Homo sapiens: one gene and its partners. The protein of the gene in region 7 purifies or fractionates together with the protein of the main gene of each other region. This does not show direct contact. Each region holds a gene or a part of one and is shown on either strand. Other genes may lie near its edges.

The links.
Region 1: the proteins of USP34 (region 7) and VPS4B fractionate together in Homo sapiens (co-fractionation; one large-scale study listed by BioGRID). This does not show direct contact.
Region 2: the proteins of USP34 (region 7) and ZNF45 purify together in Homo sapiens (co-immunoprecipitation; one large-scale study listed by IntAct). This does not show direct contact.
Region 3: the proteins of USP34 (region 7) and ZNF74 purify together in Homo sapiens (co-immunoprecipitation; one large-scale study listed by IntAct). This does not show direct contact.
Region 4: the proteins of USP34 (region 7) and UNK fractionate together in Homo sapiens (co-fractionation; one large-scale study listed by BioGRID). This does not show direct contact.
Region 5: the proteins of USP34 (region 7) and UFM1 fractionate together in Homo sapiens (co-fractionation; one large-scale study listed by BioGRID). This does not show direct contact.
Region 6: the proteins of USP34 (region 7) and VSIG1 purify together in Homo sapiens (co-immunoprecipitation; one large-scale study listed by IntAct). This does not show direct contact.

Annotation. Positions count from the first base shown.
Region 1 is NC_000018.10:63,390,976-63,395,171, reverse strand, and holds part of VPS4B (vacuolar protein sorting-associated protein 4B), read left to right. Parts: intron 1-1,622; coding exon 1,623-1,763; intron 1,764-4,095; coding exon 4,096-4,196.
Region 2 is NC_000019.10:43,932,229-43,937,097, forward strand, and holds the start of ZNF45 (zinc finger protein 45), read right to left. Parts: upstream 3,055-4,869; 5' UTR 2,696-3,054; exon of another isoform or gene 2,467-2,695; 5' UTR 2,198-2,466; exon of another isoform or gene 463-2,197; 5' UTR 376-462; exon of another isoform or gene 1-375. UniProt on the Homo sapiens protein: May be involved in transcriptional regulation.
Region 3 is NC_000022.11:20,396,749-20,400,944, reverse strand, and holds part of ZNF74 (zinc finger protein 74), read right to left. Parts: intron 1,351-4,196; exon of another isoform or gene 1,255-1,350; intron 314-1,254; coding exon 187-313; intron 1-186. UniProt on the Homo sapiens protein: May play a role in RNA metabolism.
Region 4 is NC_000017.11:75,822,762-75,826,299, reverse strand, and holds the end of UNK (RING finger protein unkempt homolog), read right to left. Parts: intron 3,036-3,538; coding exon 2,778-3,035; intron 2,039-2,777; coding exon 1,883-2,038; 3' UTR 501-1,882; downstream 1-500. UniProt on the Homo sapiens protein: Sequence-specific RNA-binding protein which plays an important role in the establishment and maintenance of the early morphology of cortical neurons during embryonic development.
Region 5 is NC_000013.11:38,356,054-38,360,249, reverse strand, and holds part of UFM1 (ubiquitin-fold modifier 1), read right to left. Parts: intron 2,158-4,196; coding exon 2,118-2,157; intron 950-2,117; coding exon 917-949; intron 210-916; coding exon of another isoform or gene 184-209; exon of another isoform or gene 1-183. UniProt on the Homo sapiens protein: Ubiquitin-like modifier which can be covalently attached via an isopeptide bond to lysine residues of substrate proteins as a monomer or a lysine-linked polymer.
Region 6 is NC_000023.11:108,068,369-108,072,564, forward strand, and holds part of VSIG1 (V-set and immunoglobulin domain-containing protein 1 isoform 2 precursor), read left to right. Parts: intron 1-4,196.
Region 7 is NC_000002.12:61,187,603-61,191,798, forward strand, and holds part of USP34 (ubiquitin carboxyl-terminal hydrolase 34), read right to left. Parts: intron 3,057-4,196; coding exon 2,916-3,056; intron 2,813-2,915; coding exon 2,669-2,812; intron 1,468-2,668; coding exon 1,308-1,467; exon of another isoform or gene 1,108-1,307; coding exon 500-1,107; 3' UTR 1-499. UniProt on the Homo sapiens protein: Ubiquitin hydrolase that can remove conjugated ubiquitin from AXIN1 and AXIN2, thereby acting as a regulator of Wnt signaling pathway.

The DNA of each region.
Region 1 (4,196 bases), on a different chromosome or scaffold from region 7:
TGACGCTGAAGCCAGGTCCTTGTTAGTGGGATGAAGGTGACACAGCCAGATGAGTTTTATCTCTGCAGCTGGGGATCACCAGCTGCAGCAGACCTCTCAGCGGCTCCATCCTTTACTTCTTTTAAAGCTGATTATTTCAGTTAACAAGAAGAAGATTCCCTGTTTATTTTTTGCATTTACTAGTATTTTATTTCTAAAATACTAATCTGGGACCGGTGGTAGATCAGAAAGTAGAGCAGTCAAAAAAGACAAAAATCCCTGACCTCATGCAGCTAAAATATTAGTGAGTAAAGACAGTAAAATACACATAATAAGGTGAGAGCATGTATTTCTTCACATCTACACTAATACTGAGATAATATTTAAAGTCGATTATTGTGAAACAGATGTGAAAGTGCCCCCAAGTTGGCTGGGCGCGGTGGCTCACGCCTGTAATCCCAGCACTTTGGGAGGCCAAGGTGGGCGGATCACAAGGTCAGGGGTTCGAGACCAGCCTGGCCATCATGATAAAACCCCATCTCTACTAAAAATACAAAAATTAGCTCGGCGTCAGGGCGGGCGCCTATAATCCCAGCTACTCGGGAGGCTGAGGCAGGAGAATTGCTTGAACCCTGGAGGTGGAAGTTGCAGTGAGCTGACATCGCACCACTGCCCTCCAGCCTGGGCTACAAAGCGAGACTCCGTCTCAAAAAAAAAAAAAAAGAAGTGCCTCCAAGTTGATGCAGACTATTGCCATCTAAATGTTTACATGTGACTATGTCACAAAGATTCTTTTTCTGGATATTGTTAAAACTTATAAATAAGTTGTACATGATAAAATGGCATTGATACTGCATTTAGCATACAATTTTGCACTTAGATTTGAGAGCATTTTTGTTGAAAGAGATTCAGTAGTTTCATACTAAAGTTCCAAATATTACAGAAGTTTCTCAGCTATAGAGCAACTTCTGAGAATTTTTTAATATATCTGTTTTTGGTCTTTAAGATTACTACCACTTATTAAGCACTAGAGGGGAAAAAGAGAAAGCCACAGGTAACTATTTTTTTTTTAACTCATCTTCTATGTGTGATCATACAAGCAATTTATTGTAGGAAATTTCAAAATATAGAAAGCATCAAGAAAAAAACTAAAAGCAGCTGGGTGCAGTCGCTCACACCTGTAATCCCAGCACTTTGGGAGGCCGAGGCTGGCGGATCACAAGGTCAGGAGATCAAGACCATCTTGGCCAACATGGTGAAACCCCGTCTCTCCTAAAAATAAAAAAAAATTAGCTGGGTGTGGTGGCACATGCCTGTAATCCTAGCTACTCGGGAGGCTGAGGGATGAGAATCCCTTGAACCCAGGAGGTGGAGGTTGCAGTGAGCTGACATCGTGCCACTTCACTCCAGCCTGGTGACAGAGCAAGACGCCCTTTCAAAAAAAAAACTAAAAGCAACCAAAATCTATCCCATTACCCAGGGGATAACTACTTTTTGTTGTATATTCTTAATTTTTTTTCCAAAAGTAAACATTCTAATAAAACATACAAAACTATTATACATTTTAACTTTCCTGGTAATGGATTAAGTCTTAATGTTCAATTTTGTTTCAAATACATATTTCAGATTACTGTTTATTTCAGGTTCGCGGACCTTCCCGAGCTGATCCTAACCATCTTGTAGATGATCTGCTAACACCTTGCTCTCCAGGTGACCCTGGTGCCATTGAAATGACATGGATGGATGTCCCTGGAGATAAACTTTTGGAGCCAGTTGTTTCCATGGTTTGAAATTTTGTTTGTTTTTAAGAAAATATTTTAAAACATTATACTTCATAATTTTCAGTTATATAAGATTTGCTGGAAAATCTTAGTATAAACAGGTGTATTTTACTTAATATTGTTGACTCATTAAAAATTATGAAGTTAATTGAACTTAAAATATAAAAAGTCATTATTTTTAAACTATTTTCTTGGGTTTAGAGGAACCTTTAAGTGAAAAAGCTATTTTTTAAAGCACAAGATTCTGACTTTACAGGTCTTATAGCTAGAATATCTCCAAAATGCTCATATATAGTATAATTATTGTAAAGACCTAACTAAAAAATAGGGTTGGTGAAATATTTTTTTTCCCCTGCATCTCAGATTTTTTAAAATAACCAGAAGTCACCTGTAATCCCAGCACTTTGGGAGGCCAAGGCGGGCAGACCACTTGAGGCCAGGAGTTTGAAACTGGCCTGGCCAACATGGTGAAATGCCATCTCTCCTAAAAATACAAAAATTAGCCAGGCAGTGTGGTGCACACCTGCAATCCAGCTACTCAGCTGAGGCAGGAGAATCACGTGAACCAGGGAGGCAGAGGTTGCAGTGAGCCGAGATTGCACAACCGCACCCCAGCCTGGGCAACAGAGCGAGACTCTGTCTCCAAAAAAAAAACAAAAAATAGGGCCAGGTACGGTGGCTCATGCCTGTAATCCCAACACTTTGGGAGGCCGAGGCGGGTGGATCATGAGGTCAGGAGATCGAGACCATCCTGGCCAACACGGTGAAACCCCATCTCTACTAAAAATACAAAAAGTTAGCCAGACGTGGTGGCACGTGCGTGTAGTCCCAGCTACTTGGGAGGCTGAGGCAGGAGAATAGCTTGAACCCAGGAGGCGGAGGTTGCAGTGAGCCGAGATCATACCACTGCACTCCAGCCTGGGCAACAGAGCGAGACTCTGTCTCAAAAAACAACAACAACAAAAACAAAAACCAGAAATACTAATGCTTGTATCATTGTTTTTATAGTGTTTTCTATTTCACTTCTCAAAGCTCCATAGAAAGTTTAAATATTGTAGTTCTATTTTTATTTTTAAAAATTACAGTTAATATAGTTTATATTGGAAGAATTAAAATAATCTACAAGACTTACTTTGCAAGGCATGTTATTTTTAGGGAACTTAGGGTGATTGAAAAGTTGTTTACTTACAGAAGAACATTCTCAGTTTTCAAAATTTTCTGTCAGTTTCAGATCTTCAAAGACCTTTAATGGCAGGTTTAATAGTAACTTCCAGAGGAGAAACTTTTACACGGTACATAGATATACATGTAAATGTGTATACACCCATATATTTGTGTGTGAACTAACCATAATGCTTATCTGAGAAGTTACTCAGAAACCCCTTTGTTTTAATCCTTGGTGTATTATTTTTTATTTTTTGTACTTTGTTCAGCTTTGAAGAATTTTTAGTAACTTAGAGTGGTCCTTTTCATTATTTTTCATATCCTTTTACAGGAGTCTAGGCTTAGAAGTTAGTTTTTTAATGAATCTCTGATATTAGCATATTTTTCTAACCATTTCGATCTTAATTGTAACTAATTATTTTAAAATTCTGGTTAGTAGATTTTTCATAGAATGGTATTCTGCTTCACTTAAGTGTAAGTGAATGATATTTTCCTTTTGAATTATACTGACTTGGAAAATTGATCTCGTTTAAGAAAAAGAGATAAGGCCAGAAATTAGATCATGAACATACTTTGGAGGCCTTGATCCTCAGACTAAGGGGATTGTCCTTCTGATAAGTATTGGGGAGCCATTTGATCAGTTCAGGGGAAGAAAGTATACGTTTCTACACAAAGGAATAACATGATCAAAGATCATGAAAGATCTGTGAAAGAATAGGGGCCGGGTGCAGGGGCCCACGCCTGTAATCCCAGCACTTCGCAAGGCAGAGGCAGGCGGATCACCTGAGGTCAGGGGTTCGAGACCAGCCTGACCAACAAAACGAAACCCCATCTCTACTAAAAATACAAAAATTAGCCAGGTGTGGTTTCAGGTGCCTGTAATCCCAGCTACTTGGGAGGCTGAGGCAGGAGAATCTCTTGAACCTGGGAGGCAGAGGTTGCAATGAGCCAAGATCACGCCACTGCGCTCCAGCCTGAGCCAACAGAGTGAGACTCCAACTCAAAAAAAAAAAAAAAGAATAGGGAGTTTATCGTTAGTATCTTATGGCAGACTGCAAATATTCATATTTAAACTTAGGTTAAAGTTCATAGCAATAATGATAATATGACGGTTTTTTATTTTGTTAACTCTATTATTAATATCCTCCCTACCCTTCTTTTTCCCTGACAGTCGGATATGTTGCGGTCACTATCTAACACAAAACCTACAGTCAATGAACATGACTTGTTGAAATTAAAGAAGTTTACAGAAGATTTTGGTCAAGAAGGCTA
Region 2 (4,869 bases), on a different chromosome or scaffold from region 7:
GGGAGGCTGAGGCAGGAGAATTGCTGAAACCCAGGAGGCGGAGGTTGCAGTGAGCCAAGATCGCGCCACTGCACTCCAGCCTGGGTGACAGAGCAAGACTTTGTCTCAAAAAACAAACAAACCAAAAAACCCAAAAAACTGAACCTTAATAGTGGTCTGATTTGTCTTTAAGGGAGTTTGTTTTAGATCTTGACAATATTATCCACAATTGTTCATCAACTTTTGAATACCCTGAAAAAGTTGATGGATTCTACAGCCCACCAAACGTGAGATAACAGACAAGGACTGTGGATAATCCTTCTATTTTGTTCTCTAATTGCAAGCTGTAGCACCCAAAATCCAGATGCCTGTTGGAGAGCTACATGAATCACTTACTCACTGAATAACTCCTCTTTGCAAACCTCTTGCTGGGTACTCTTGAGAAGAATATGATAATGTCCATGAAACAGAGGTCCCTGAAGTCTAATGGGAGAGAGATAGGAAACCAAGAGTTATATGCCAGTGGCAAGTGCAACTCCAAAAAAGCAAAGAAAATCAATCATCTTTCTTTTCCTAATTGCAACTCTTTCTAGCTTTCTCACATAAGTAGCATTCTCCTAGCTGCCAGGAGTGAAAAACCTCAGAGTTACTGTTAATATCTATTATGGGCTGAATTGTGTGTGCCTCTCTCAAAACGTTAAAGTCCTAACGCTCGGTATCTCAGAAATAACTGTCTTTGGAAATAGGGCCTTTAAAGAGGTGATGAAGTTGACTTACAGCAAGGGAGCTCACGCACACAGAGGGGAGAGGCCTTACAAGCCACCAAAACTGGTGACACCTTGATTTTGGACTTTTAGCCTCCAGAACTGTAACAAATACATTTCTGTATAATCCAGCCAATTTGTAGTATTTTCTTATGGCAGCCCTGGCAAATGAATATAATTGCCCCTCCCTTGGCCTTCATATATAAACGATTAGTGAGGCCTAGCATGGTGGCTCACACCTGGAATCCCAATACTTTGGGAGGCTGAGGTGGGCGGATCACTTGAGGTCGAGTTTGAGACCAGCCTGGCCAACATGGAGAAACCCAGTCTTTACTATAAACACAAAAATTAGCAGGGCGTGGTGACGGGCACCTGTAAAGCCAGAGGCAGGAGAATTGCTTGAACCCAGGAGGCAGAGGTTGCAGTGAGCTGAGATCGTACCACTGCACTCCAGCCTGGGCAACAGAGCAAGATTCCATCTCAAAAAAAACAAAAAACAAAAAACACAATTAATGATAATTATTAGTTTTTAAGCCTTACTGACTCATCATCTGGGTTTGTTTTAAAATACTCAAGGGAAAAAAAGTTGGTGGGAGAGGCAATAAGATTAGCAAGAATGGAAGCAGGGTGACTGTACATAAGAGTTCATTATATTTGGGTATGTTTGGATATTTCCATAGTAAAAAATAAGGGAATAACAACCCACTATGAATAGTGTGATAACAATTTCATAAAACACAGACAAAAACACATTAAAAACTGCTAAACAGAAATGCATTAAAATGTTAATAATTATCTATATCCTAGTATTAAGGAAATTTGTAATATTTTATATTTCTGTATTTTCTACATCCTGTACAGAGAACGTGCATCTCTATGATCAAAATATGAACTACTAATATTGCTTAAAATTAAATGAGAATTCTTTCAAAATTTTCTAAAGTCTAAACTCAACCTTGCTTTCAAAATCTTCTACAGTAAAATTCCAACCTCCCTCCCCAACTTGATCTCAAATGGCTCCTCTGCAGCCAGTTTCCTATGATTATTTATATGGATCATTTATCTATTTTATTTCCTAATTCTAAATTGGGATTTCAAACTGTGAGACCAAGGGTATTCAGATGTAAGGAACCCAAGTCTAGGACACAAATCCCACTGTTCTTACTAGCACTGTGATATAGGAAAGTAAATTAGGCTCTCTCCATTTCCTCATCTGTATAATTGGTGTAATAACAGTACCCATATCACAATACCCACATCACCTTTGTAAGGTGAACAGAACCCACAACACAAGGCCTTTGTGAAGGTTCAGTGTGTTAGTTTTTATAAAGCCCTCAGAGTGATACTCAGCACCCAATGTTTAACTAGTGTGACTAATATTCATGTCACATTTTCTCCAATTATACAATAACGGAACACTTCTGTAGCAGAAACATTTGCAAGGAATGAAATACCTTCTCGCACTCGGAACAGAAGAGGAAGGTGAATGCTAGGTCCTGTCACAGTGGGGCTCTGCTGCCAGAAGCCAGGATGCTCTCCTTCCTCCTCTCCCGCAGCATTCTTTCAGAAGTCAGGGCAGGGGAAGGAAAGGAGGCTGGGAGATTGCACGATCTTGTCTGAGATCCTGGAAAATCCACAGAGGATAACTCCAGACGCCACCTGTTGAGTGATGCACTCTTTCTTAAAAAACGGGTCAGGCATAGTCCAAGAACAGCCTCCTTTCCTGCAGGAATCAGAAAGAAGAGCCAGGCGCTTGCTGAAAAATGAATATTTTTTATTATGATAGTTTTAATATTAACGGCCGACATGTTGCCACATTCCTGTACTATTCCATACACATTTTACTTGTACTATATTACTAATTGTCAAAACAAATATATAAGGTTAATATTTCCTTTTGCAGAAGAGGAAACTAAGACCAGAAACTAAGCACCGAAAGATTAAGTTCTCACCCAACGTTACACCGCTAGGAAGCTACAGAGCTGTGGGAGGTGGGGGAAGGCGGGTCGGGCCGCTGAGAGCCCAGGAGATCCTCAGACGCCTCCCCATTCAGGTCCACTTCCAACCAGGGGACTCCCGAACCGCCCCGAACGCAGCAGCTCCGGATACAGTAAGGCAATCAGCTGCCCAGCCATTCAACTCCGCCCTCCGCTGCTCGCCGCAGCGTCTTTTCCTGCTGACCGAAGTGCGAGCCCTGCTGATCCTACGACCAAACCATAAAAGTTAAAACAGGTCGCGGGGTCCCAGGACTCACTCACTTCCACGAGAGGAATGAAGGCCGCGCTCTCAACCTCTTGCCGCGGAAGTGCCCGGGAGAGCAGGGAGCTCTGGAACTACATTTCCCAGCATCCCCGGGAGGAACGGAAGCCGCTGCCCCGCCCCCTGGGCGGAAGTGCGGGCTTCGACTCCCACGGCCGAATCTTATTTCTCAGAATCCCCAAGGGGAGCGGGCTTCGTGTTCTCGTCCTCAAATAGTCGAAGTACCACCGAACCCACTGAGCACTGGGGTATAGGTTCCTATTTCCCCAGGGGAGCAAATAACAAAGCCGCGCTTTCCCAGAGCTGAAGTGCCCCCAAAAGTCTGGACCACACGTCCCAGAATCCTCTGTAGGGCTGAGCTTCCCGCCAGCCTGCAATTTTCCTTTTGAATTAGCGGGGGGAGTCTAAGTCATTGCTTGTAGAGCTCAGCCTGCTTTTTCCTTTTGCCATTGTTCCCTTTTATACGTGACAGAAGTTGCGAATATGAAAAAAAAAAAGGAAAATACAAAGGAATGCTATGTGTGAGCTAAAAACAGAGGTAATAAAAGAGGTGGCCAGAGCCGCCCAGAGCAACAAGCCTTTTATAATATGGGTATGGATTCATCTGTGATTAAAAATGCTCAAAAAAGGAGATGCAATCATCCAGCAGGACATGAAACAAAAGCAGCAAAATTCTCCACTTTTCTTGCGCTTAGTTTTCTTTCATTCGCAGGATACTGAAGAAAGTATTATAGTATTGAATAGGCTCTATCCTATATAAAATCTTGAAAACATTCAGTTCAGATTAAGGAATCACATCACTTCTTGCTCTCAGAATCAGGAATCTGTAAAGGTGTCTTATGATTTGCCAAAGTGTCTATGAATATTCAGTAAGGAGAGGGAGGTGAAGTGAGGGATTAAGACATGAAGTGCAAAAAATACAGAAAGCTATACTATTCACTTTTCTCCTAGGTAGAAACTAAATATTTTTCCAAGTTTATTATGAAAGGGTAAAGAAGAAAAAATGGAAGTTGACTACATAGGAGTAGCTGTAAACATCTGAACAATGTTCAATTTAGGCTGAGGCAGGAGACCAGCAGGGCGTGATTCCAAGATCAGATAAGAAACCTGCTGAAACCAGCAAGTGATGGAAAGCAACCTGTAAGTTCCCTTTGCTACCTATCAGTATAAGACACTCCCACCAGCGCCGTGACGGTTTATAAATGCCATGGCAACACCTGGAAGTTACCAACCCCTTTTCTAGAGATTTCCGAGTAACTCACCCCTTAATTTGCATGTAATGAAAAGTTGGTATAAATATACCCAGCCAACAGCCCATATGCTGCTACTCTGGGCACACTGCCTGTGGGCTAGTCTTGGTCTGCAAGGAACAGTCACTGAGCTTTTAACACTGTTGATTCGATAAACCTGCTTTCTTCCGCTGCTGGCTTGCTGTTGAATTCTTTCCTGAGCAAAGCCAAGAAACTGCCCTGCATCAATGCCATTTCAAAATCTGGATAAGTACTCTCTCTACTTTAGTAAGAGGAAGAGAGAAATGTAATCACCCAATGGACTCATCTTGCCCACTGCCCAGAGAGAGCCAATTTATCAAGACAGGAATTGCAATAGAGAAAGAGTTTAATACACGTAGAGCTGGCTAAATGGGAGACCAGGGTGAAGACTGAACTCTGCCGTTTTTTCTTTTCTTACTCAAATTCCTATCTAAGGGTCTGGGGAGTCAAGCCCTCCAAACCATAAAGTCTCATGAGAGGGGTTTTAATTTAACCCTATATAATGTGACTTACTTTCCAACCTGTCATAACACCTCATGACGGATAAGAAAGGAAATCAAAATACTTCAACCCCAAATATGTTTCATTGCCCTATC
Region 3 (4,196 bases), on a different chromosome or scaffold from region 7:
GCTGTCCCTTGGGGACTTCTGGCGTGGCCGAGGCCCCTGGCCATGAGTGCCCCAAGGCACAGGCCTTGCTTCCCACCCCATGATATATCTGGCACCAGGGCCGGCACTGAAGGGATTCTCCTTAATATCTACCATGTAGAAGAAGGCTGACAGCCGACGCCCAGCCTGGGGCTGGGGGGATTTTACCTAGGGCAAGAAGGTTCTGGTAGTTCTCCAACATCACATCCCGGTACAAGGCCCTCTGAGGGGAGTCTAGTTGACCCCACTCCTCCTGGGTGAAGTCCACAGCCACATCCTTGAAACTCACCGATTCCTGAAATGACATATAGGTTCTCACCCAGGACTGATTCTGTGTCCATGGTTCCAAAGGAGCCAGAGATTGATTAAGGACCCTACAAGTAAAGGGTTAACCTCAGGTGACCTTCTCCCATGCCAGAAGGTTGTGCTGTAGACACTGACCATGACTGAATTCGGGGACCAGGGGCAGGGAGGGGGGCTGGGAATTGGCATGCATTCCCACACCACCTTCTAGATTGGGAAAGCAGGTCTGAATAGACACCACAGGGCCCTGGCAACTTGCGGTGGGACCCAGGGGCTGTACATGGCTGTTGTATCAGGCTCTAAGTCCTGGGTGAGATGCTATGCTTCCTGGAGTCAAGAATTTCAAACTTAAAAATTTGAGAGAATATTAATAGTACAAAAATCCCAGCAACTCTATTCAAAGCTCAGTAACGCAAAAGGATCCGATCCCAGACTAGAAACTGTTATTACACTCTAAGGAAGGAAACCTTGTATATATCAGCAAGTTCTGTGCCCCAAGGGACTAAGAGAGGCTACCTGCAGTCCTCACCTGACTGCCTTCCAATCCTTCCTGCCTGCTCCCCCTGGGCCTGGGCATCCTGGCCACCACCCAACTCCAGACTTGCTTTGATCCTTGAAAGGATCAAATAGATGCCAAGTAATTTCACTGCATCCCAGAACAAATCCCAGAAACAAGGAATTCCAAAAACCTACTCAACAAAGTAAAATTCACAATGTCCAGCATCCAATCAAATAACTAAAAGGTGAAAAATATTAATGAAATCAGAGGAATTAAGAGTATATTAGAACAGTATGTGTTTACCTCAAAAGAAGTCATTAAGGGAGGAAATGAGAAACAAAAAAGACATAAGACATAGAAAACTAATAGCAAGGCCGGGTGGGGTGGCTCACGCCTATAATCCCAGCACTTGGGAGGCCAAGGTGGCAGATCACCTGAGGTCAGGAGAATTGCTTGAACCCAAGAGGTGGAGGTTGCAGTGAGCCAAGATTGCGCCACTGCACTCCAGCCTGGGTGACAAGAGCCAAACTCTGTCAAAAGAAAAAAAAAAAAAGGACATGTAAATCCAACCATATTAATAATTACACTAAATGCGAATAGTTTAAACACTCCAATTAAAAGGTGGAGATTGTCAAACTGAATTCAAAAAGCAAGCTACAGAAACCCACTTTACATACAAAGATAGGTTAAAAGTGATAGGATAGAAAAAGATAAACCCTGCAAATACTAATTTAAAAAAAAAAAGCTCAAGTGCCTATAGTAATAGCAAAGTAGATTTCAGAGAGAGGACTATCAGAGACAAAGAGAATATTACATAATGATAAAACAGTTAATTCATTAAGAACTCATAGCAATCCTAAATATAAATGTATCTACTAAAAGAGCTTCAAAATACATAATGCAAAAACTGACAGAACAATTAAAAAACACCATCATTCAACTTGACTTAACTGATATTTACATAACACTCTAACCAACAAAGGCATAATACATATTTTTTCAAGGGCATGTGGAACATTTACCAAGATAAACCACACTCTGGGAAATAAAATAAATCTTGGTAGACTTGAAAGACTTTAAATCACACAAAGTTCATTCTTTGATGACAATAGAATTAAATCAGAAATCCATAATAGAAAGTTATCTGGAAAATGCCCTAAATATTAGGAAATGAAACAACACATTCTGAAATAACATATGGCTGAAGAATACATCACTAGGGAAATTAGAAGCTATTTTGAGCTGAATAAAAGTGAAAATGTGACATAACAAAAGTTGTAGGATATAGTTGAGGCAGTGCTTAGAAATTTACAACGCTGAATGCTATATGAGGAAAAAAGGTATCAAATCAATATCTATGTTTCAATCTTAAGACACTAAAGTAAGTAAAGTAAGTTTCAATCTTAAGACACCAAGGAGATAATAAGGATCAGAAATCTCTGAAATGGAAAACAGAAAATAGAGAAAAATCAATAAAACAAAAAAATTGTTTTTTGAAAAGATCAATAAAATTGACAAACATATATTTACTATATGGCTCAGCAATTTCACACCTAGGTATTTATGCAAGAGAAATTAAAATGCACAGCCATACGTGTACTCAAATATTTATAGCGGGTTTATTTGTAATAGCAAAAGCCTATGAGTAACCTAAATGTCCATCGGCTGGTGAATGGATAAGCAAACTGCGGAGCAGTTTGCTCCATCCAATGGAGCAATGGGATGAAATGTATACCCCTCACCTCAAATTCTTATGTCTCAATGCTTGGTAACTCCGAGAGAGGTTTTTTTTTTTTTTTTTTTTTTTTGAGACATGGTCTCACTCTGTCACCCAGGCTGGAGTACAGTGGTGCAATCTCAGCTCACTGCAACCTCTGCCTCCTGGGTTCAAGAGATTCTCCTGCCTCAGCCTCCTGAGTAGCTAGGACTACAGGCGAGAACTAACGCCCAGCTAAATTTTTGTATTTTTAGTAGAGACAGGGTTTCACCATGTTGGCCGGCTGGTCTTGAACTCCTGACCTCAAGTGTTCCACCCACCTCAGCCTCCCAAAATGCTGGGGTTACAGGCGTGAGCCACTGCACCCGGCCTGGAGAGAGGTTCTTTAAAGAAGTAATTCAGTTAAAATGAATTCAATGCAGTGGGCCTTGATCCAATATAACTGGTGTCCTCATAAGAAGAGGAAATTTGGACACAGACATAGAAGAGGTAAGACCATGTGAAGATGCGGGGAAAAGGTGGCCATCTACAAGCCAAGGAGAAGCCTCAGAAGAAATCAACCCTGCTGACACCTTGATTTCAGATTTCTTGCCTCTGGAACTGTGAGGAAATACATTTCTGTCATTTAAGCCCTCCTGCCATACTTTGTATGGCAACCCTAGCAGACTAATACAAATGGAATATTACTCACCAATAAAAAGGAACAAACTACTGATTCACACAACAATATGGATAAACTCAAAAGCATATGCTAAGCGAAATAAAGCAGAGACAAAAGACCACATAATATAAATTCCATATGAAATCCTTAAAGAGGAAAATCTACAGCAAAACTATAGTGGTTACCAAGGGGAGAGGGGAGACCACTGAATGCACAGGGGCATGAGGACATTTTTGGGTCATGGAAACGTCCCATATCATGATTGTGGTGCTGGTTACACAACTGTATACGTTTGCTCAACCTCATCAAATTGTATACTTAAAATTGTACAACTGTGCTGTATATAAATTACACCTCAATAAAACCTTACCCCCCAAAACACTGGATTTCAGATGAGGAGGTAGAGATGAGGACAAATGCTGAGAACACACCCCTAACTGAGGCATGCAGGCATGAAGGATGACGATAGCCGAGGGAAGGAGAAAATGGGCTGAAACAAGGCTCCAAGCCAGGTGTGGGGGCACACACGTTGGTCCCAACTACTTAGGAGGCCGAGGTGGGGGATTTGCTTGAGCCCAGGAGTTGAAGGCTGCAGTGAGCTATGATTGTGCCACTGCACTCCAGCCTGGGCGACAGAGCAAGACTCTGTCTCAAAAAAAAAAAAAGAAAAAGAAAGAAAAACAAAAAAATAGCTCCACAGGTATCAGAATATGGTGTTGGCCAGTGAGGCTGTCAGAGGCTACATGGCTTCAGTGTGGGGAGCAAAACCAGCAAGAGTAGGGTAGGGTCTGAGGCCCGCACAGGCCTTTTTGATGGGTATTTCTGGCCACTGGGAGAAGTCCATGTCTAATGTGTCATCATTCTGCAGGGAAAGGAATAAAAAACCCAGACAGTATGCATTGGAATCAGATGCTGATGTGGTAATGACACTAGCAGAGAAGTCAGAACAGACCACACAAGATGTCCCAGGAGACAGAACAACTTGAACTGTGAGTGAG
Region 4 (3,538 bases), on a different chromosome or scaffold from region 7:
CCTGTTTTTGTTTTTGAGATGGGATCTCACTCTGTCACCCAAGCTGGAGGCAGCTGTGCAATCATGGCTCACTGCCGCCTCGACCTCCTGGGCTCAAGTGATCCTCCCACCTCAGCCTCCCTAGTAGCTGGGACCACAGGCATGCGCCACCATGCCCAGTTGGGAAGACACTGTTCCTCTGAGAAACAGTTACGGGCCCTATTGCCAGTCACCGCTGACCACACAGCCCTAAAGAGTCCTAGGGCCTGGGGGGCCTCTGTGTCCAAGGCTAAGGGTCCCTGTGTCATCAACCGCTAGGCCTAGGTCGGAGAGCACTTGAACTGTCTTGGGGCCTGATGGGCCCAGGAAGTTTCCAGCCCTCTCCAGCTGCCTTACCACAGCTCAGGGGTGTGGGCAGCAGCCGTTTCCATGGCTGAGGCAAGGCTCCTGGCCCACCTCATAGTTCAGAGGCCCTCTTTTGGGACCCACTCCCCCTCACCCCCATGTAAACAAGCTACCACTGCAAGTTCATATTTTATTTCCAATAGGTTTGGAGCTTTGTTGATTTTTGCATTTTTGTAAAAAAGGAAAAAGTTTTCACTTAATTCATTGAAAGCCCTTTCGTGCTGAGCCCAAGGGGGAGCCTGGGCCAGGACCAGACCCTCTCAGCCCTCTTGTTCCTACCGCAGACACCCGGTGCTGGGGGTGCGGCTGCTCCCCTCCGCCCACTCTGCCCTCCCGCCCCTGCTGCATCTCTCTCTGTACAGAACAATTTTTAAAATGGAAGCTAAGACACAATATACACTGGACAGGCACACACACACGCACACAGGCGTCCGCCCAGAACAGGGCGGGACACCAGCTGCACTCAGAGAGCACCAAGGAATGCAAACGGAGCCCCTCCGGGTAGGAGGGCAGGGCCTGGGCCCCCTTGGTCCTCAGTCCTCAGTCCGCACTCCTCCCCGCCAATTGCCCTGCTAGCTGCCAGAGAGGGGAGGGGGCAGGGAGAGCTGGGGGCAGCTGGTTGGGGGCGGTGGTCATAGAATGAGTACCAGCCTGGTAGGCGGCCCTGGGGCCAGGGAGGCTCTTGTGGGGAGTCCGGGGAGGGGCGGCGGGGGGAAGGACTGAGGGTGGACCCTCAGGAACCTGAGGGCTGGAACTCCTGGGCCTTGCCCCTCAAGGAGCTTCAAGGGCCCAGGTGTCAGGAGTGGGGCTGGCCCTGCAGCACTGGCCTCCAGCCCTTGCTGTTCTCCCCAAGACTAAATTAACATTTGGTAAACTTAGGAGCTAAGCCAGCTGAGACCCCCAGCACTCCCCCTCGGGCCTCCCTGAGGCCCTCACAGCTGGGGGCCAGGCCTGCTCTGGGGGACCCACGTCTTCCACACTCCACCCTTGCCCTGGCAAGGAGGTAGGGGGAGCAGGGCCTGCCCTGAGGGCTTCTCCCTTCCCCTTAGTGCCTTCCAGTCCCACCCTTCCCTGCTCAGGCCCCAGGAAGAAGTTAAAAATAGTTAGTTCCTACATTAAAAAAGAGACAGAACCAGATTCTCTGCCAAAAGGCCAGTGGGAGAAGAGGGGATGTCATCTCTGCAGTGGGAAGGGCAGGGAGTGGGTAGGGGAGGACTGCAAAATAGTTTCTTCTTTTAAAAAGTGCTTGGTAAGTCTTTTAAAGTGTGTGTCTATATCTATGTACAGATATACACACAGACACTGTCCACACCACCACGCATACCTGCACACATACGGAAATGTATACATATACATACATACGGAAATGTATACATATACATAATCATATACATATACATACATACATACACATATATATATATATTCATATATATATATATACTTTAAAAAGTCCTAGGTGAGAAGATCTGGGCCAGGCTGGGCCAGGCCTGCAGGGTCACGACTGGAGGGTGTGGGCCCGGCCAGGCTGGCAGATGGGGCACTCGCTGCCCTCAGCGCAGAGCTCACACAGCGCAGCGTGTTGGCACGGCAGCACTGCCCGCTTCTGTTCCTGACACTTAAGGCATTTCACCGACTGCATGTGGAACACGGCCTGCAGGGAAAGGGGCATCGTGGTCACCATCCATGGGTCTGGCCCCAAGTTGAGCGAGGAGTTCCCTTGATCCTCACTGCAGCCCCTTGGGATGGGAAAACTGAGGTACCGAGCTCAACAGTGTGCTCCCAGACCCCTGTTGGCAGGTGAGAGAGCAGGCTGAGTCCACCTCTGCATGGGGCATGGCCAGGCTGCCACAAGACCCACCCCTCAGAGAGGCTTCGCCCAGTCTCATTTGACCTTGTAATCCCCAGATGGGGAAAATGAGGCCCAGAAAGGGCTGGGACATGCCCAGGGCCACACCCGGGGGCTTGGCTGCCCGAGAACAGAGGAAAGACAGCTCTTCCCACCATGCCACGTTGGCCCCGGGGACCCAGCAGGAGACCTGGGAAGGCAGGGGTAGCCCTGGGGTCCTGGGCCTCACTGGAAGGCCCGCTGCTCCATGGAGGGTGTACAGGAGGACGCATTTGGGGCCCAGGCATTTGTGAGAAGCTTGGTCAGGGCCGCCCTCAGGGGTGCTGGGGGTGGCACCGACACCCCTCACCCCCAGCCTTTTCACCTTCCCCAGTGCACTCTCCTCACCCATTCCCAGCAGGCCGGCCTTTTGAGTGCTGGCCCAGTGCTGGGCAGAGGCTCTCAGGAGGGTGGCCATCCCTGGAGCAGCCTGGACCAGGTCAGAGTCCAAGAGCTGGCTGAGGCCACCGTGCATCCCACCCAGTGCTCCCCGACCTGGGCTGACCTTGTCCACTTGTTCCAGGTGGGCCCGCAGTTGTTTCTGGAGGGAGTAGAGGGTGGAGAGTGAGAGCGCCTCCAGGTCGGAGAAGGCGGGCAGGGCCTGGGGCTCAGGCCCCGCGTGTAGCCGCTCCAGCTCCTCCTGGAGCTTCTTCACCTGCACCTCCAGTGCATCCCGCTGCTCCCGGGCCAGCTCGCACTCGGCGCCCGCCGCACTGGCCCGCTCACCAGCCTCCTCCGCCTCTTTCTTCCAGGCATCACAAGCCTGTGGGGCCAGCATACAGTCTCATCACAATGGCCCTGCCCTGCCCCTGTCCCCAGAGAGCATCATCTTTTGGGGGCCACTCTGGCTGCGAGGCCTGGTGGGAAGCTGGGTTGGCTCTCTGGGAGGAGGGCAAGGAGGAGGCTGATGCTGTCTGCACAGAGGTTTCAGAACCTGCAGGAGACTCTCCCCTCTGTGGCCAGGGAAAGGGACCTGGGCCTAGCACAGCAGGGACACAGGGTAGAGCTGGGATTCTGGCCAGCACCCATAGGGTAGCCGGCTGCAGCTGGACAGGGGGCCCATTTCAGAACCCAGAACCTTGGACTTGAAACCCTGGAGAGGCGAGGCTACTGGGAGGAGGCAGGTGATCCTGGGACAGACTACAAGCAGCTCACAGAGAGAATTTGAAGCCTGCAACAACAGTAACCACCCAGGGTCCTGACTGGCAAAGCGAGTCCTCCCAGGGGGAGAGCGAGCGAACAAAACTGAGTTTCTGCTCTGTTCTT
Region 5 (4,196 bases), on a different chromosome or scaffold from region 7:
TCAAACTACTGTAAAATATTGAAAGTTTCTCGATTAAGAAAAAAAGAAACCTTTGTCTACTAAGTTTAAAGGCATCCATACAATAAAGTGCCTCACGATTTTCAATAAACCTTTTTAATAAAATTATATATTAACAACTACTGAAGTAACAAAAATTTGCAATTTTAAATCACTTCATTTTCTTTATGGCTGAATTTCAACTGCAAGGCCTGTGAAAACAACATAATTTTGTTACAATAAAGAAATACTTTAGAATATAATTTAAAAATAACTACTGCTCTAGAATGAGGTTACATTAAAGCATGCCTAATTTTAAAACTTTAGATTATAAGCCTAAGAGATTACATTTTAAAAATATAAAACTAATTTTAAAAAAGTTTTAGACTTCTTTTTATAAAGTATGAGACTACTTTTACCCTGTCTCCTGGTCAGGACACCAATATATCACCTGTATAAATTTAACAGTTTGAAGATCTGAATGTAGACTCAGCCCCTTGAAATGTAAATGACTATATTTAAAAAAAATAATAGCACTTAATGAATGCTTTCTATAAATAATCCAAGCTATGAAGCACTTTACAGTCACTATCTCACAACTACCTTAAGAGGTAGGTCAAAAAATACTCCAATTAGAAAGCAATCTTATCTACAGACTTTTTGTTATATATAATAAATACTCTTAATGCTTAAGCCACTATTAGGTTTTCTGTTACTTGTAGCCAAAAACATCTACAATCAATATACACAATGAAACAACTTATTACTCAGACACACAGGTAAAGACTGGTATATAATCCCTAAAAAACAGCTCCATTATGTTAAAATACTGTCAAGTGTAATTAGAATAGCTTAACTATTCAGTGTCAATTGACATATATAACCCCACCCACTCCTCTATGAGTTTTCAAATACTCACCAGCAGTCTGTGCAGGATTTATTCCTATTCCATCTAGAAAATAAGTTGTAAAATCACATACATTATTTCTAAAGCTAAAATGGTTAAATAGTAGCAAGGAAAGAGATTTGCCAAAATAGTGCTGTTGTGTATATAGACATAAGCCAAACACTTTAAATCCAAGAACACGAGTGACAATCTTTCAGGTAAATTATCTGTTGAAATCTACTATTATTCTGCATTCATACACATTGCTGGGTTAGACAAAAACGTCTGTCAATGCAATGATCCTGGTAAGTTCTATGGAATATAGGTTATTAATTCTATTTTGCCATATAGAATTAAAAATAATGTTTGTCCTTTCTTCCAAAAAACTAAAAAGCCCCTTAGGTATGCCATGAATCATCTTCGTATTGTTCTAGGTCATAATATCTTAAGGCTGGGAGAGCTCACAAAGTCATTTAGTTCAACACGTTACTAAGTTATGACCTAAAACTTTCCAGGTAGTAAGCCAGCTTTTTTCCAACAGAGAAACACTTCAATGTGACAGAATGCAGAATATTTTAGAGTGAGAAATTCTACCTTATCTAAGTTACATCACGCACATTAAGCCCATCTCCTGTCCAAACTGCACTTGGGCAACGCATCAGCACTCATCAATACTGCATTGTATACTTGAAACACAGTTAAGCCCTCCCTGCAATCTTTACTCCTCATCTTATTATTTCACTATTTTCTCACAAGACTAATTCCATCATCATTGATTATCAGTGTTCCAAGATATTAAGATTTTTAATTATATACCTAAAACGGAATAAAATTCTCATTATTGCAAGCCTACAAGAAACAATTTTCTATCAGGAAAGGTATAGCAAAGATACATTCCTGCTTAACTTTCTATATTCTAAAGCATTTACCAAACAACTTTACTTAATAAAAAAAAAAACTTGCTAAATAAAGTTATTTTCAGTTATAATCTGGCATGAACTGGTAAGGACAAAAGATATTATAAAGTGCTATACTATATCAAAAGCTATATACAAAGAAATGAAAGGAGCTAATTATTAACAATAACCCTGACTTAGTGTTTACCAGTAAGTATATCATTTATGTTGATATACATATACTTGGGGCTTTTTGTATTTAATTTTAATTAATTTGGTTCCTTTTACACCATTTCTATAAATTTGAGGTAATACATAATTTTATAGTGAATTCTTACCATTGGTAATAATTGCACTTGTTGCAGCAGGAACTTTAAACTAAATAGAAGGAAAAAAAAATATATATATATATACACACACACACACACACACAAAACTATAAGATAATTAGCAAGAATGGGGTACAAATACCAATTCTATAATTCTAAAGTAGGATTAATCTTTTAGAATAAGTGAAACTATCAAGGAAAGTACAGCTGACCCTTGAATGACATATGCAGATTTTCTTCTGCCTCCGCTACTCCTGAGACAGCAAGACCAACCCTTCCTCTTCCTTCTCCTCAGTATATTCAACACAAGACAAGGATTAAGACCTTTCCCATGGTCCACTTCCACTTAATGAATAGTAAATATACTTTCTGTTATGATTTTCTTAGTATTTTTTCTTTAACGTTATTGTAAGAATACAGTATATAATACACATAACAAAATACATATTAATCGCCTGTCTGTGTTATCAGTAAGGCTTCCAGTCAACAGTAGGCTATTAGTAAAGTTTTTGAGAAATAAAAAAGTTTTATGCAGATTTTCAACTGCACAGGGGGTTGGAACCCCTAACTCCCACGTTATTCAAGGGTCAACTGGACTATATCATATGCTTTATCTGTAAAAAAAAAACCCTGTATTATAAACAGTGCTTTTGATTGTATTTAGGACACCATTAATTATAAAAGTGTACCTTATATTATACATTACAAAAATGAAAAACCACTGTCAATTTATGCCCAGATCAATGTTTACTCTTTAGGACTTATCCATCAATTTTGTCATTTATAATTCTCTTGAACAGCAAAAAGTACATGCAAAATAAACTGATGAGATTATTCCTAAAATTTCTCCATAGAAATTGCAAGATCTGAACAGATGCTCTCTGTGTTTAATGGGAGGTGCCTACCGAAGATTTTCAGGTAACAACCAAGGCTTGTATTCCTTACATTCCTCTGTAATGATTTGCTGATTTAAAGCTCAAGGATTGCAATAGTCCAATTATGTCATTAGGAAATAATAATTAAGTGTAGATGATGTTACCTAGACAATTAAGTGAAAGCCATTTGGCCAACAGTGATAGCAAGCCTCCCCTGATCTATTTCAGAGATGTTTAAAAAGATGTGTTTTTTAAATCAATGAAATGTGGTATGGAATTTATTGGTAGCTAAAAGGTAGATTCCATCTCTTAAAGAGACCAGCAGTTGCCAAAGTGTGTTTATGTCTTCACAGTTTATGCATTTATCCAACAAATTTAAGCATGTTTGTGCTATGGACTAACTTTATAGATATTATAGTTGAGTTTTGTGATCAAGTTTGGAAAACACATTTAACTAGTGGTCTTCTCAAAAGCCTTTAATATACTCCTAACAGAAATGAAGTGTTTCTCGTATTTTTTGACCAGTAATCCCTGTTCTTCATGAAGTTTTTTTTTTTTTTTTTTTGGTGGTACTAATTTGTGTGTGGTTCTAGTTGTCTGGGAAACACTACTCTAGGCATCTATAATCATTACATATACATAGTTGAGAAAAACTAAAAGCTTATTTTAAATTAGAAATTGAAGAATCAACTTTTAAAATAAGGCCTTAAACATACCTGAGAACAATTATTTGTTATAGTATTATGTACAAATTAATAATAAACACATTTTAATCTCAATGTGGTACACTCTTGTGTCCTTTTAAAGATTTTAAAATTTTTAAAGAATTTCAAAGTGTACTTAAGTAAACTTAAAAATGCATCACAAATATTTTGCACAGGCTGTAATCTCAATAAGAATTTGATCAAACACTCAAATGAACTATATAGGCCTCTCAGATTTCCAAAGCTAGAGTACTACAAAGTTTTTAGTTACCCTACTGATTGAGTCTTTTACATCATGCCCATTTTAAGATAATCTATGTATTTTCTTAGTCACATCCATGTAGTAGCAACCTATAACTTTAAAAACCAAAAGCAATTGCTGACACAGTTTTCCCTTTAGGCAGAATGTGGAAGAAATGGTTAAACCATGAGGAGGCATCACTGGTGATGTAAAATGTAGAATCTATTCCTTTTTGTCCTACAGTACTGACAGGTTTTCTACTGAATGC
Region 6 (4,196 bases), on a different chromosome or scaffold from region 7:
CTAGTGTATTAGTCTATTCTTGCATTGCTGTAAAGAAATACCTGAGACTGGGTAATTTATAAGTAAAAGAGGTTTAATTGTCTCACGGTTCTGCAGGCTGTACAGGAAGCATAGCAGCTTCTTGGGAAGCCTCAGGAAACTACAATCATGGCAGAAAGCAAAGGGGAGGCAAGATGTCTCACATGGCTGGAACAGGAGGAAGGGGAGGGGAAGATGCCACACACTTTTAAACAACCAGGTCTTATGAGCACTCATTCACTATCACAAGATCAGCACCGAGGGGGAAATCCGCCCCCATGATCCAGTCACCTCTCACCAGGCCCTATCGCCAAAATTAGTGATTACAATTTGACATGAGGTTTGGGTGGGGACACAGATCCAAACCATATCAACTAGTTAGTTATATACATGGGAACTAAGTGATGTGCTATAAATGCCAAAGCATCAAACTGGCACTCAGAAGACCTGAGTTTTAGATCTTACTCTGTACTCAGTGACCTTATACAAGTCAGTCCACCTTTCTCTGACCATTGTGAGATGGGGTTATAATTTCTGCCCTGTCTTCTTTACAGGTTTGTTATGAACAGTTTTGTTATTTTACCTATAAAATGAAATACTGGAGATCAAAGGGGTTTTTAAATGTTCAAAAACTGGAGGGATTAGCTAATGATTTTCTGTTGCTTCCTGGTTCTGGGATGTTCTGACCAGAAACAATCTAAAGAAGCCAAGTCTCTTCATCTCAGAGCTTGGAAATAGCCCTGAGATAAAGTTAGACAAGAAGGTTAATATTCTTAAATTTAAAGCTCAGAGGATCCCAAATCAATTTCCATAAGAAGTTGAGGGTCACTTCATCTCAGAGGTGTTTTTTCCCATGAGTCTTTGTGTCAGATAGCTCTGTGTCATGACTTTTCCTTAAGCAGCCAGGATCCAGACAAGGTAAGAGGCAGAAGGGTCTGTGGATTTCCTTGTTTGTTTAGGAACTCTAAAAAATATTGTTTTTGTTAATTGGGCAAAGAACAAAGGCCTCCTCCAAATGTAGGCTTTTTGGAAAATTTGAGACTGCTAATTTTCTCTAAAAATTGCAGCGACTATTTGCAATTCTCAAATCTCATTGTATATGAGTGACAATTTTGCTTGCCCTGACTGAAAGGTGAGGCAAGATGGGGACAGGTGGGTAAGAGAGACAGGTTAATTGTGGGGAGAGGTGTTGATATTTCCTTAAAGATGACTCTCATAGCAATGTATCTTTCAGATGTTTTGTTACCCAGCAGTGAGCATCAATCCCATGCATTTACTCGTTCATGCATGAATTCATTTAACAAACCCTGAGCACACGTGCCAGTTACTGTGCTAAGCAATGGACATGGGGAAATGTAAAAGATAGGGTCTTAGCCCTCTAAAATTCAGTCTAGTGAAGGAGACAGACGCGTAACATAAAAGCTTTCAGTGGAGGTATGAGAGGAGAGCTATGAGGGCACAGGGGAAAGGGCAAAAAGCTGTATCAGGAATTGGAGAAGGCTTATTGAGGAAAGTGACTTTTGTGCTGAATGTTGAAGGATGTGCAAGAGTGTGTGATGAAGAAGAGGGGCTGAGATGGCAAGGCACAGTTTAGGTGAAGGAAACAGCAATGGGCAAAGAACCAGGTGGTTTGGATGGCCATTCATTTGAGAGCTTTCCATTAGGTATGACAACCTTGGAAAATTAATCTCTGAAAAATACCCAGATCAAGTTTGAATAATTATTTTGTGTGCATTTGGAATGAGCATCATCTACCTTCCGCAATTTGGCACATAAAAAGAAAATGATTGATTTAGGGAAGGTTTAAGAACCTACTGAAGCACTTTGTTTTTTCTTTTTTCTTTTTTTTTCTGAGCTGAGCCTTTTCCTCCCACCCCAATTCTGTTGAAAGCAATAAAGCTAAATGGTAGATCAATGGCTTTGCCAGTAAAATACCCAAGTTCCACTGGGGACTTTAACTGGATGAAATTTCAGTTCAATCCTGGGTCAGTAGTTTTAGAAAATATATAGGTTTGGGACTTGGTTCAAAGTGATTCACTAAATGTTTTGTTAATAAAAAATAAAAGGAGAAAAATATTCTAAGCAAAAAAAATGCCTATCTGGGTTTGATTCTGGGCTCAAGAAATGAGTGCAAGTCATTCCAGGTTTTTGCCATAATTTAGTTCAAGTCCTGGTGTCCAACTTTGTGATGAAACACCCCCATTTAATTTTCTGTTCAAATTGTTCTATTCTGCTGTAAAGGCTATACAATAGCCATCTTTTTAAAAAGGCAGTATCTAAATCTAGTGATAGCTGCAATGGACTTCTGGTTAAATAGCTTAGTTTAGGATAGGCACATCCAACAAGTTGTTCCTACCTGAGAAAATCTTTGATAAGAAAGAATAAAGAACTAAGTAGAAGGATATTCCTTTCAATTAAAAAGACACATGCTTAAAAGATAGGGCTAGTAAACTGTTTAAGAATTATAGCTATATGCATCTGTCTTCTCGCACCTGTGTACAGATAGTGAGAGTCTGGGAAGGCTGAACTGAGCGGAAGTCAATGGGAGAGTAACTTTAGTAGCAGGAATTAGTGCTGCTGTGGCCAACAGAAATTCCAGGTTCTAGGCCCTATATTTATTATTGTATTTAATACTTGGATCAGCCAGAGGTTAGATAATCTCTTAGTCACGTTTTACAGATGAGTCAGCTGAGGTTTGGCTAAGTTAGGTAACTTGCCTATACAGATCCAGGGTAGAGTTACAAAGCCCGTATTCTGTGTGGATCCAGAGCTGTGCCCTTAACCACTGCGTCTCAGGTAAGAGCTGTAGGACTGAGTAATATGACACATTTCATGTCTAACTCACCTAAATTAGAGAACCTAAGCTTTAAAGGGTTCTAGAGCAAAATGAAGATAAGCAAGGTGAGTTGGAAAGTATAGAAATTTACATCATTGTCTGTATATAAGATAGATATATAAGGTGTATAAGATAGATGTATAGATATAAAATAAATATCTAAGATAAGAGATATAAGATAGATATGTAGATATGATAGATATATAAATGTATAAGATATGTAAGATAGAATAAACCGTGCAAGTAAGTAAGATGAATGAGGAGATTCAGATTCCCAGCTTCCCACAGGACTTCTCCCCTGACATGTTTTCATAAGCAGCTAAAACTCTATGTCCCGGACTGACCTCATTAGTACCCCTTCCTCCTTGTCACCCCTTCACCTAAAACCTGTTCTTCCTGCTGTGGTCTTGGAGGCCTCTTCCCCTCTCTAAAGTCATCTCTCATCCCTCTCCCACCCCACTTTAGAACTGTGTGAAAGTTACTTTTGAATTCCTGGTGCCTAGTCCCATGCCAGGCCCACAGAAGGCATGGGTGCTTGCTGAGTGAAGGATGAATAAATATTTCAGTGCTGAGTAGCGTGCACCCCCCAAATGGACTTCCCCTACTGATGATGCACACAGGCAAATTTAAACCTTTCAACTATTTGTGTCACCCACAGATGAACAAATGCAAAAAAAAAAAAAAAAAAGAAAATAATCATGAGAGAAAAGAGAAATACAGCATTAAATATTTTAAAAAGAATAATAGGTTATCTCAGAGTATTTAAGGATTCTATTTTCCTTTAAAACTGTGCTTTTAAAGCATAAACTATATTCCTGGTCATTTAGTATTTGCTTATATTTGGCTGTTTTAATAAAGGCATATTTTAAGACACAATGCGGAAATTCATGGTTATAAATCTGAGGAGGAGGCAGACAGAGGAGTCACTATTTGAATCTTAATGGCCTCTTGACTAGAAGGGCCCTGCACCTGAAGTGCTCTACTCCCACCTGGTGGTGCAAGCAGAAAACTGCCAACATACATTTTAATAATTTTTTTTGTGTGTGTGGAGACCCAGTCTCACTTTGTTGCTCAGGATGGAGTGCAGTGGCGTGATCTTGGCTTACTGCAACCTCTGCCTCCCAGGTTCAAGTGATTCTACTGCCTCACCCTCCCAAGTAGCTGGGATTACAGGCGCCCACCACCACGCCCAGCTAATTTTTGTATTTTTAGTAGAGATGGTGTTTCATCACATTGGCCAGGCTGGTCTCGAACTCCTGACCTCAGGTGATCCACCTACCTCGGCCTTCCAAATTGCTGGGATTACAGGCATGAGCCACTGCGCCTGGCCAAGAATTTTTTT
Region 7 (4,196 bases):
TTTATATACTGCCAGGCCACAGCTAAAGAGGATTCTTTACAGAATCAAATTTCTTGTGGTTGTTCCGTATACAAGTAAACTTAATTTTGATAATAAGAACCACAGCGATCGGAGGCAATCTGCCTCTATAAGGTACAAAACTGGCACAGAGGACACCATATCATACACAGTAAAAATGCTGTAAGTTTAAATTACATTGTACAGGGCTAGGCAACCCTGTTCTTCCCAGACAGCCATATTAAATGAAAGCCACTAAAGTGAACTCTTAATTACATAAAACATATCCATTATCTGATTGCCCTTTAGGAAGTATACTGAAGATGCAAGTTTTTTTCATCTGGAGTTCTGCCTGACCAAGAATTAAGCCTATAAATCTATCTTGCCATTCAAGCAGAGAGCACTGGACAAACTGAAGCACAAAAACAAATAAGCAAAACTTATACAAACAGCATGGGGGTTGGGGGTGAGGGACTTAAAAGTAGACATGCTACACCTAATGTCAAGAAGCAGCTTGGTTTCCTTTGCCAGATATCCTTGTGACGACATGGATTGTAGATTCAATGGTCCTACACAGGGTATCTAAAATGTCATGTTGCTGCATATGACTAAAGAGTCCTCTGGAATGGCCACAACTGAGAGATAAAGCAACCTCAGGGTCCTGGGAGGGCAAAGCTTGGCCATCACAGCTTCTCAAGTCAGCTAAGTCAGACAGAACTGCAGAGATAGAAGTAGAAGGGAACTCAGATTCTTCCTCAGCTAGGGTAGAATCCTTGGAACAGTGGAGGTCTTTAAATTCTTTACAATCGTCATATCTACCATTGTTGGACTGTTCTTCTGCATGCTGTGACCTGATATTTGACATGTCTTCTGAAAACGAAGATGGAACTTCCATTCGGTATTCTTTAACAGAACTATTTTCAGGGGAAGGAAGATCTTGCTCAGTTCCTGGATCAATAATTGAGGAGTCTCTGGTCTCATTGTCAGAAGTGCTCGTTGGGGTCAGGACCTCCCTGGTTTCTGTTTTCATGTCACTGATGCAGCTGTCTACAGTGTGCTCCTCATCACTGCTAACACGCCGCCTTTTAATGGGAGTTGCTCCTTCATCATCTGTGAAAACACATGCCAAAAGGGAAACTTCTCTGAAAGTCATTAAGATCACGTTAGGGGGGGATGTGGGAAGTTAATTTTGTTTCTAGCATTTATATTTAGGAGGTTCAGCTGAACACACAACTCTTAAACCAGTTACACCAAGTGTATTACTCCCTCCTCCCACCCTAAAGGTAATGATAGTAGTCCATAAAGCTAACCTTTAGTTTTTCTTTCTTTGGCTTCTTGCTCTTGGAGTGAGTTTCTCTGTTGCAGACAAGTCCTGCATTTGCTTAAAAGCTCTTGCAGAGTTGGAATTAGAGCTGGGTTTAACTGTTTGGGAGTGTGTACTGACAGGAGCAAAGCGAGTGCCCTCAGGTCCTACAAAAACCCAGATAGGAACATTTCAAATTCTAAAGCCAACACTTTGATGCAGTTGTTTACAGTTAATTGCAGATGTTTATTTTCCCAGGAATCCATTCTTTCCTAAGAATACCCTGGTTTCTCTGGGATTCTTAGAATGATAAAACCAGAAAGCCAGTGTTAAGATACTACAGCATTTCATTAGTTGTTTTTTTTTTTTGTTTTGTTTTTGTTTTTTTTGAGATGGAGTCTTGTTCTTTGGCAAGGCTGGAGTGCAGTGGTGTAATCTCGGCTCGCTGCAACCTCCACCACCCGGGTTCAAGCGATTCCCCTCCCTCAGCCTCCCAAGTAGCTGGGACTACAGGCGCCCGCCACCACGCCTGGCTTAATTTTTTCTATTTTAGTAGAGACAGGGTTTCACCATGTTGGCCATTGAGATGGTCTCAATCTCCTGACCTCGTTATCCACCGGCCTCGACCTCCCAAAATGCTTGGATTGCAGGCATGAGCCACCGTGCCCAGCCTCATTAGTTCTTAAAGTCACTAATAGCATTATTTTATGCCCACGAACCAGTAAGTCAGACCAAAGCCTGAAATAGTGTTTTCTGAAAAATGGAAAAGGAAATATAAGAATTTTAAAAACAAACCTTGAAATCAGTTTCTCAAGTTAAAATTCTGATGGATGTCACAAATAGTAAGGTCTTCCTTACTGAGCTCTGTCATCTGTTTTGGCTTTTATGCATACTGTGATTTGGGAGGCTGCTGCTCAACATTCTAGCCCATTTCCAGAGTGTTCCATTATTCTAGGACATGGCTGTCATGGGAGTCTGCACAAGGCAACTAATGCTCTAGATTTAACTGCCTTTTTTAAATCAGTAGATCATTAATTGTTTCAGTTACATAGGAGCCATAGGCAGTAATAGAAACATCACAAGTATTGTTTCCAAAAATATACCCAACTAGAGATAAGACCACTAAGATGTTCCCTTTATTACCTTTCAGCATTTAATGATACCAGCTTGTAGCTTCCAAGGTGATAGAGTGTGCTGTGTACATACAAGGCATAGTAAACGTGTATTTAAAACTTGTTTTTTTGTCGCACATGGCTTAAGAGTTTGAATCAGTAAGTTAAAGTTACGAGAGTAAAATCATATGAAGGCCACACAGTTAACTGAAGGACAGTTTAAAAGTGTGTGCCGCCGCCTCTGCATAGTTCTTACCCCATTTAAAGAAGCACTTGCTTTGGAAATTTCAACTCGGTTGGAGAAATCAGACTGTAGGTTCTGATACTGGCTTATCAAGTTTGTAATAAGAGTGCTGATCAAATTGGCACAGTTTGCTTCAGAAAACACTTGACTTTGAACCTGAAAAAGAAGATTTAAAAAAATCTCCAAAAGACCAGCATAATGAAACCACAAGCATTAACTAATTAGAAATGACACACTGAGTTTCCAAAGTACTACGTACCTTTAGAAGGAAATGTGTCATGAACGTGTAGACAATGTTGTTGTTTAAAAAAGTTCTTTCATCCATTAGGATACATTTAATATATTCTGCGAAAACAGGATCTTCACACAAAAGCTTGATGCAGTTTTTTGACATAGCAGACTAAAGTGGGGAGAAGATGGTTGAGCACTTACGGTTGAGCACGGAAAAAACTTACACGGAAAAAACTTACACAGAAAAAACATACACTTGTGTATGATGGAATCTGAAGCCACTGAAAATCCTACTTGAAAAGCCATGTCTAACTCACCTATTGAATTTTTAGTTAACAGCAACTATTTTTCATACAGTAAAATGTTACTAATTTAGATTAAGGGAGTGCTGGGGGAAGACACTGATGCCGAAACTGAACAAATGTTTTAAAAGAAATGCAGGTTTATTATCCAGCACTGAGAGAGTTAACAAGGACTGGAAAAATAAGGCTAACAAAGAATAGGATGTGAATGTTTTCAAGGGCCAAATTAATGTATTTATAGGTAACCAGAGCATATGTTGCAAAAAGACACATTTTAAGAATCAAAATCAATTCTCCAAAATGTTTTAAACTTTACTGTATATTCTCGCTAGCAACAGTAATTCTGTAAATACCTTTTCCCCCCATAAACACTGCAAGGGTAAACAATAAATCTTCTTTCCTAATTATCTCACACAGAATCAGTGGTCTCAATATATGGAAATTTTACTAAAATTTGGTTTTCCTGTTTTCAAATAGTCATGGCTCTTAAACACAAGTAGTATGTCTTTAAGCAGATACACTCCATAGATTTAAATGTGCATTTTAATAATTTATATGGAAAAAAGCAATATATTTTTTAAATAGGACAAAATTTAGATTATATATATATATATATGCATATGTGTATATCTTATTAAAGTATGCAGCTGTCATAAGTAAATTACTCAAGGTCAGTCAAGAAATTAGGATTCAAGTAGGACCAAGACCCAGGTCTTGAGATCCTTAACACTAGGAAAAACCTGCCTTGGTCTACCAGTCACAGCCTGTGCCTCTGCCTCTGTTTCTTGCTCAGGATGGCTGCTTCTATAGCACTGGAAGCTTTGGAGGCCTTATATGGTTAGGCTTTGTTTTAAGGGAAATTTGGGGGCACAGTGAGTTCTGTCTGTGAAAGAAGTCAAGCGAAGGGAGTCCTGCGATGCAGAAGTAGAGAAAGCAATAGGGAGCAATAGGTAGTGGGAGAGTACAGAAACCAAGAAACTACCCAAATCAGGAAGAATGAAAAAGAA